Regions from separate parts of the Homo sapiens genome. Here region 1 is linked to region 2. The links come from fine-mapping of genetic effects on gene expression. A gene starts in region 2. The other region holds a variant in brackets. All regions are shown on one strand. Distances are between the middles of the regions.

Region 1 (2,916 bases), 90 kb after region 2:
TCATACATACATACAGTGGGTCTCTTGGCTGCCTTAGTGTTACTGTGAGGTTTAACTTTGTACAGTGGGGTGGAATGCTGCCTGCTGTAGTAGATATTCAGTAAGTCTCCCTTTTGTAGCATCATTATTCTCCTCACCTTACCAGTAGTGCCTTACAGACTTACACATATTTAAGACCGTATATGTGGAATTGTGATGAATTTACAGCAGTATTGTAGTGTTTGTTTATAAAATTTAGCTGATGGGAAGCTATATATTATATTTGGGTCAAACACTGAATTTCAGCCTGTCTCCCATGGAAATAACCGTTTGGAACGTGTTTCTTGTTCTGCTATGACATTTGGAGAGTTGATACTTTCTGAAATATGTAAAGATGAAAAAGTAATAAAATATGTAAATCATTTCTACCCTGCTAACTGGCATTTAGGCAAGCCTCTAAGCATCTCTGGGCTTCAATTCCTTCAATTGTTGGATGAAGAGTGTTTTTGGTTTGTTCGTTCTTTTTTTTTTTTGATAGAGTTTTTGCTTTTGTTACCCAGGCTGGGGTGCAATGGCGCAATCTCCGCTCACTGCAACCTCCACCTCCCAAGTTCAAGCGATTCTCCTGCCTCAGCCTCCCAAGTAGCTGGGATTAGAGGCATGTGCCACCACGCCTAGCTAATTTTTGTATTTTTAGTAGAGACAGTGTTTGACCATGTTGGTCAGGGTGGTCTCGAACTCCTGACCTCCAGTGATCTGCCCGCCTCTGCCTCCCAAGATGCTGGGATTACAGGCATGAGCCACTGCGCCCGGCTGATAAAGAGTCTTGACTAGACAATTTCCACATGTTTAGTTTAGCTAGTATTTCAGAATCTTAACCCAAAATACTTATTTATTTTTATTATTATTATACTTTAAGTTCTAGGGTACATGTACACAACGTGCAGGTTTGTTACATAGGTATATATGTGCCATGGTGGTTTGCTGCACCCATCAACTTGTCATTTACATTAGGTATTTCTCCTAACGCTATCCCTCCCCCAGTCCCCCACCCCCCAACAGGCCCTGGTGTGTGATGTTCCCCTCCCTGTGTCCATTTGTTCTCATTGTTCAACTCCCACTTGTGAGTGAGAACATGCAGTGTTTGGTTTTCTGTCCTTGTGATATTTTGCTGAGAATGATGGTTTCCAGCTTTATCCATGTCCCTGCAAAGGACATGAGCTCATCCATTTTTATGGCTGCATAGTATTCCTTGGGGTATATGTGCAACGTTTTCTTTATCCAGTCTATTATTAATGTACATTTGGAAAAACCCAAAATATTTATTTAAAAAAATTTCTTTTGGCCGGGCACAGTGGCTCACGCCTGTAATCTCAGTACTCTGGGAGGCTGAGGCAGGTGGATTACTTGAGGTCAGGAGTTCGAGACCAGCCTGGCCAACATGGTGAAACCCCGTCTCTACTAAATACAAAAAATTAGCTGGGCATGATGGCGCATGCCTGTAATCCCAGTTACTTG[G/A]TGGGCTGAGATAGAAGAATTGCTTGAACCCGGGAGGCAGAGGTTGCAGTGAGCCAAGATCAGGCCATTGCACTCCAGTCTGGGCAACAGGAGTGAAACTCCATCTCAAAAAAAAAAAATAGAGACAGAGTCTCACTGTGTTGCTATATTGCTCAAGCTGGTTTTGAACTCCTGGCCTCAAGTGATCCTCCCACCTTGGCCTTCCAAAGTGCTGGGATTAGGGCATGAGCCACTGCACCTGGCCAAGAATCCAAAATACTAAATTGTCTCCTTGTGCCTTTTATTATTGATGTACAATCCCTCTAATTAAACAGATTATGCTTATTTTTTGGTAATAGTTTGTAAACTAGGTGTATTTTAAATTTGAGATTATTTTATTTTTTAATTTTTTTCCTAAGGGCAAGGAGATGTTAGACACTAGACAGTAAAAAAAAAACTTCCAGTTGAGATACTGTCACTATTCCATCAGACCAAATAGGAGTTTTTATTTAAAAGCTTTCTGTGAGGCTGGGCGTGGTGGCTCACTCCTGTAATCCCAGCACTTTGGGAGGCAGAGGTAGGAGGATCACTTGAGGCCAGGAGTTCAAGACCAGCCTGGGCAAGACCCTGTCTCTACAAAAAAATGTAAAAAAGTAAAATTAGCCAATTGTGGTGGTCTGCACCTTTAGTTCTAGCTTACTTGGGAGGCTGAGGTGGGAGTATCTCTTGAGCCCTGGAGTTGAAGATTGCAGTGAGCTAAGATTGGGCCTCTGTACTCCAGCCTGGGTGACAGAGCAAGACCCTGTCTCTAAAAATTAATTTTTAAAAATAAAAAATGATTTTTTATGTAGGTTATAAAAATAATATGCTTGTTTTTAGAAATTTTTTTGAGAAAAATGTAGAAGCATAAAGAAATATGTAAGAATTATCTGTAGTCTCTTCTATTTAGGGATAATCAGTAAATAGTGCTGATTATTATGGGGTTGTCACCTCCATTTTACATAAGAGGAAATTGAGGTATAAAGAAATGAAGTGCCATGTTCAAAGTTTCCTGGCTGGTAAGTGGCAGAGCCTGGATTTGAACCAGGAAGCCTGACTTTAGAATCTGCTCCTAATTGCTTGCTGCATGAAGAAGATAAAGTCATACATTCTAGCACCCAGAGCTACTCTATAAAACTTTTTAAAATTGTTGTAGATGTTTTTGTATTTATATTAGGTATATAGATGTTGTTTTAGTGAATTTTGGTTTATATGACATGAATACTACCTCCATGTCAGCATAGGGTTTACATTTTAAATGGCTGCATAGAATTCTCTTACATGTTAACGAAAAGGAAAACTGAGAGATGGCTTGGCTATATTTTTATTTTAAATTGCATTTTTTTCTTTCTCAGACCTCTTAGGGATGAATTGCCATATTCTCTATCCTTTTTCCTCTCA
Region 2 (2,916 bases):
ATGAGCTTAATGCCACCACCAAAGACTTGAAAGATACAAGGTAGTGATTCCTACCAAATCCACAATTAACTCACTTGTTTGATCAGTGTACAAATCAAGTAGGTCATAGAAAATGACCACAGATCATCACGGACTAATCCAGTGGTGAGGTGAATCACAACCAGAATTGCAGAGACGGTATTTTTACTGGAGCAAATCCACACAGTCCCTGGCACCTGGGCCACTATTGACCTGGCAAATGCTTTATCCTGCCCACCCCCACCTTAATCCTCTTCTGCCCTGTTGTGGCAGGGACAGCAGTATACTTTTACTGTCCTGCCTCCGGGCTATGTCGGCTTGCCTGCACTTAGTCAGAATGCAATCTGGAGGGACCCAGAAGCCCAAGCTGATCCATTACATATCTTTATCATGCTAATTGGACCTGGAGAGCCCCAAAGAGCTAGCACCTAAATGCCTTAGTAAAGTACCTGCAATGCCAGAAAATGGGAGATAAAGCCTGACAATATTCAGGAGTCTGCCACATGCGTGAAGCCTCTAGAGTCCAGTGGTCTGGGCTTTGTTGGGATAGACCTTCTAACATGAGATTCAAGTTGTACTTTACACCAGAAAGAGCCATGAAGAAAAAGATATGAAGCTTAATTTTCAGAAGTAACACAAACCAGATTTGAGTATCTGTTGCTGTGAACCACTAACTCAAGTAACCCTTAAGGGTACAAGGTTTTTGGCTTTTGTTTTTGAATTTTTATTTTAACATAATTTCAGGCTTACAGAGCAGTTGAAAGAATAGTTGAAGAATTGCCATATACCCTTCACTCAGATTTCACAAATATTAACATTTTCATAGGCAGACAGAAGCAAATTATTTTTAAGTTGAAGTAGTTAAGTTTCTTTTATACTTATTTAGTTCTAGGAATTTTGACTGATAGACATTGACTGGTGGGGGAGGTGGAGGTTGCTGGCTGACCAAGGTGATCTGTGGTGGTTGGTGGCATGTTGGTGGCTAAAGCAGGCAATGTGCAGTGTGGTAAGGATGTGTCATAGTGACCACCTGGATGAGCCAGCAGGGCCAGGTATAATGAAACATTGCCATGGAGTTTCTTCCCCCAGATACAGTGTGGCCCAGGTGGATGCCACGGTGCCACCCTCTGGTGCTGAGGAGCCCACACTGTGCGGAGCCTGCCCTGCCTATGCACCGGTGCCGATGACCCAGCCAGGCCTGATTTAGCCCCACCAGGCAGGCAGCAATGGCCCCTCTCAAGCATGGAGCTCCCTCCCTGAGACAGGAAGCTATTGGAGAACTGGGCTTTGAAGCCATCAACTCACAGCTAACTGTAGAGAGCAAAGATACCCACATTATCAGCAGGATTGAGAGCTACTCACGTAAGATAGCAGGAGACGACAAACACTGTTCTGACAGGAGGGCGGCCCACATACTGAAGGCTCTCTCCCCATCCCAGACCTCAGGCCTCAGCCCCAGCAGCCTGAGCAAGAACCAAGGTGGCAAGGACAAGGGCCCCCCTCAGGGACAAGTGCAATTGCAAGACCCTCTTCCACTTGATTGTCATGCTCAGCGAGTCCTTTCAGGCCTGACTATGACCTCAGCACAGCCCGCAGCCATGGGTTCAGCCGGAAGCCCAGCCTCAGGTGGGTGGTGAATGCAGTCAACCGCAGTCTGTTCTCAGCTGCGTGGGGGGACATCAAGGTCCTAGAACACAGCTGTGGAACACAGTGGATGAGGAGATCCACCTGGCTTAATGAGACACCCACAGCTATAACCCAGACATGGACCCAGATGCCTTCAGAGAAGAAGATACCCTCTGGTCCTTCAACTACTTCTTCTACAACAAAGGGCTCAAGCAAATTGTTTTCTTCAGCCACCGCTCCATTAGCAGCTCCACCTGCACACCCTCAGAGGCAGGCAACGAGATGGACCTGGAACTGGGGGAAGAGGAGGAAGAGAAAGGAAGCAGAGGTGGAGGCAGTGAGGGTGGGGCCGAAGAGACCAGACCAAGGAGGACAGGTTCCCAGTGATTTGTATGTGATGAGGAGTAGCACAGGCCCCAGCTTCATCCAGCTTCAACCAATGCCTGGACCTGCCCACCTGAGAGGCCCTGAGGCCTCCCCAGCTGCAGGCCAGACCCTGGTGCTGTCAGAGTCTCAGCACTGCCCAAGGCCACACCTGCCTGGCCCTTTGGCTCCAGCCTGTAGGTGTCCACTCAACCCCATAGGCTTCTGCTGCCCACGCTGTGGCTGGACTAGACAGCACAGGACCTGCTGCAAAGAGTAACCACCTTGCCCAAACGAACTACCACAGGCAGGGACAGCTAGACCACAGAGTTTATTTTTGTATTTCTGCTGGGCCTGCACACTCCAGCCCAAAGGGCTTATAGCCAGAGGCCCCAGAGGTCATGAGCTCTAGTCTTGGGTCAGCTCTTGGCACCCACCTGTACCCCCACCTCACCCATTTGGCTGCATGCACTGAGTGTCACTTTGCTGCAGCTCATTGCTTTCCAATAAAAATGTTTGTGACTTAAAAAAAATTGAGACAAAAATTTAAAAATTTTATAACATGCTCATGAATGCTGGCAACCTCACCTCCACCAGCACCCCACCCCAGCTGCCACCACCGCCAGTACAAGTGCAACACCAGCAACCCCACGGCTGCCAGTGCCCCAGCCCCCATTTTCCCCCCTACCAATGCACCACCACCACCACTGGCATGAGCACATGCAGGAACACCGCCTCCCCATTTCTGCTGGAACCCCTCCCCAGCTAACACGTGTGCACCCCGCCATGCTGCTGCAGCTGCTGCCATACATCAGTAAGCACAGATCTCACTGACACCACCCTGACCAAGTGCTTTGGCTAGCATCTTCCATCACAGTGCTGTGGCCAGCAGACTGGGAACAACTCAGC

Evidence for each region. PIP is the estimated chance that this variant, and not a neighbour inherited with it, causes the effect.
Region 1: its variant is the best candidate, but not a certain one, in a credible set for the expression of BFSP2-AS1 in whole blood (INTERVAL, PIP 0.86).

The regions. Positions count from the first base shown.
Region 1 is chr3:133,579,099-133,582,014 of GRCh38, forward strand. The region is part of intron 2 of CDV3 (CDV3 homolog); the gene reads left to right. Among named protein-coding and RNA genes, the nearest start is that of CDV3, 6.9 kb to the left of the region's middle. The variant G/A (reference allele first, on the strand shown) is at 1,498.
Region 2 is chr3:133,489,522-133,492,437 of GRCh38, forward strand. BFSP2-AS1 (BFSP2 antisense RNA 1) reads right to left here and starts at 1,588. Exons shown (of 4, transcript NR_189064.1): 1 at 1,381-1,588. It also overlaps the pseudogene MAF1P1.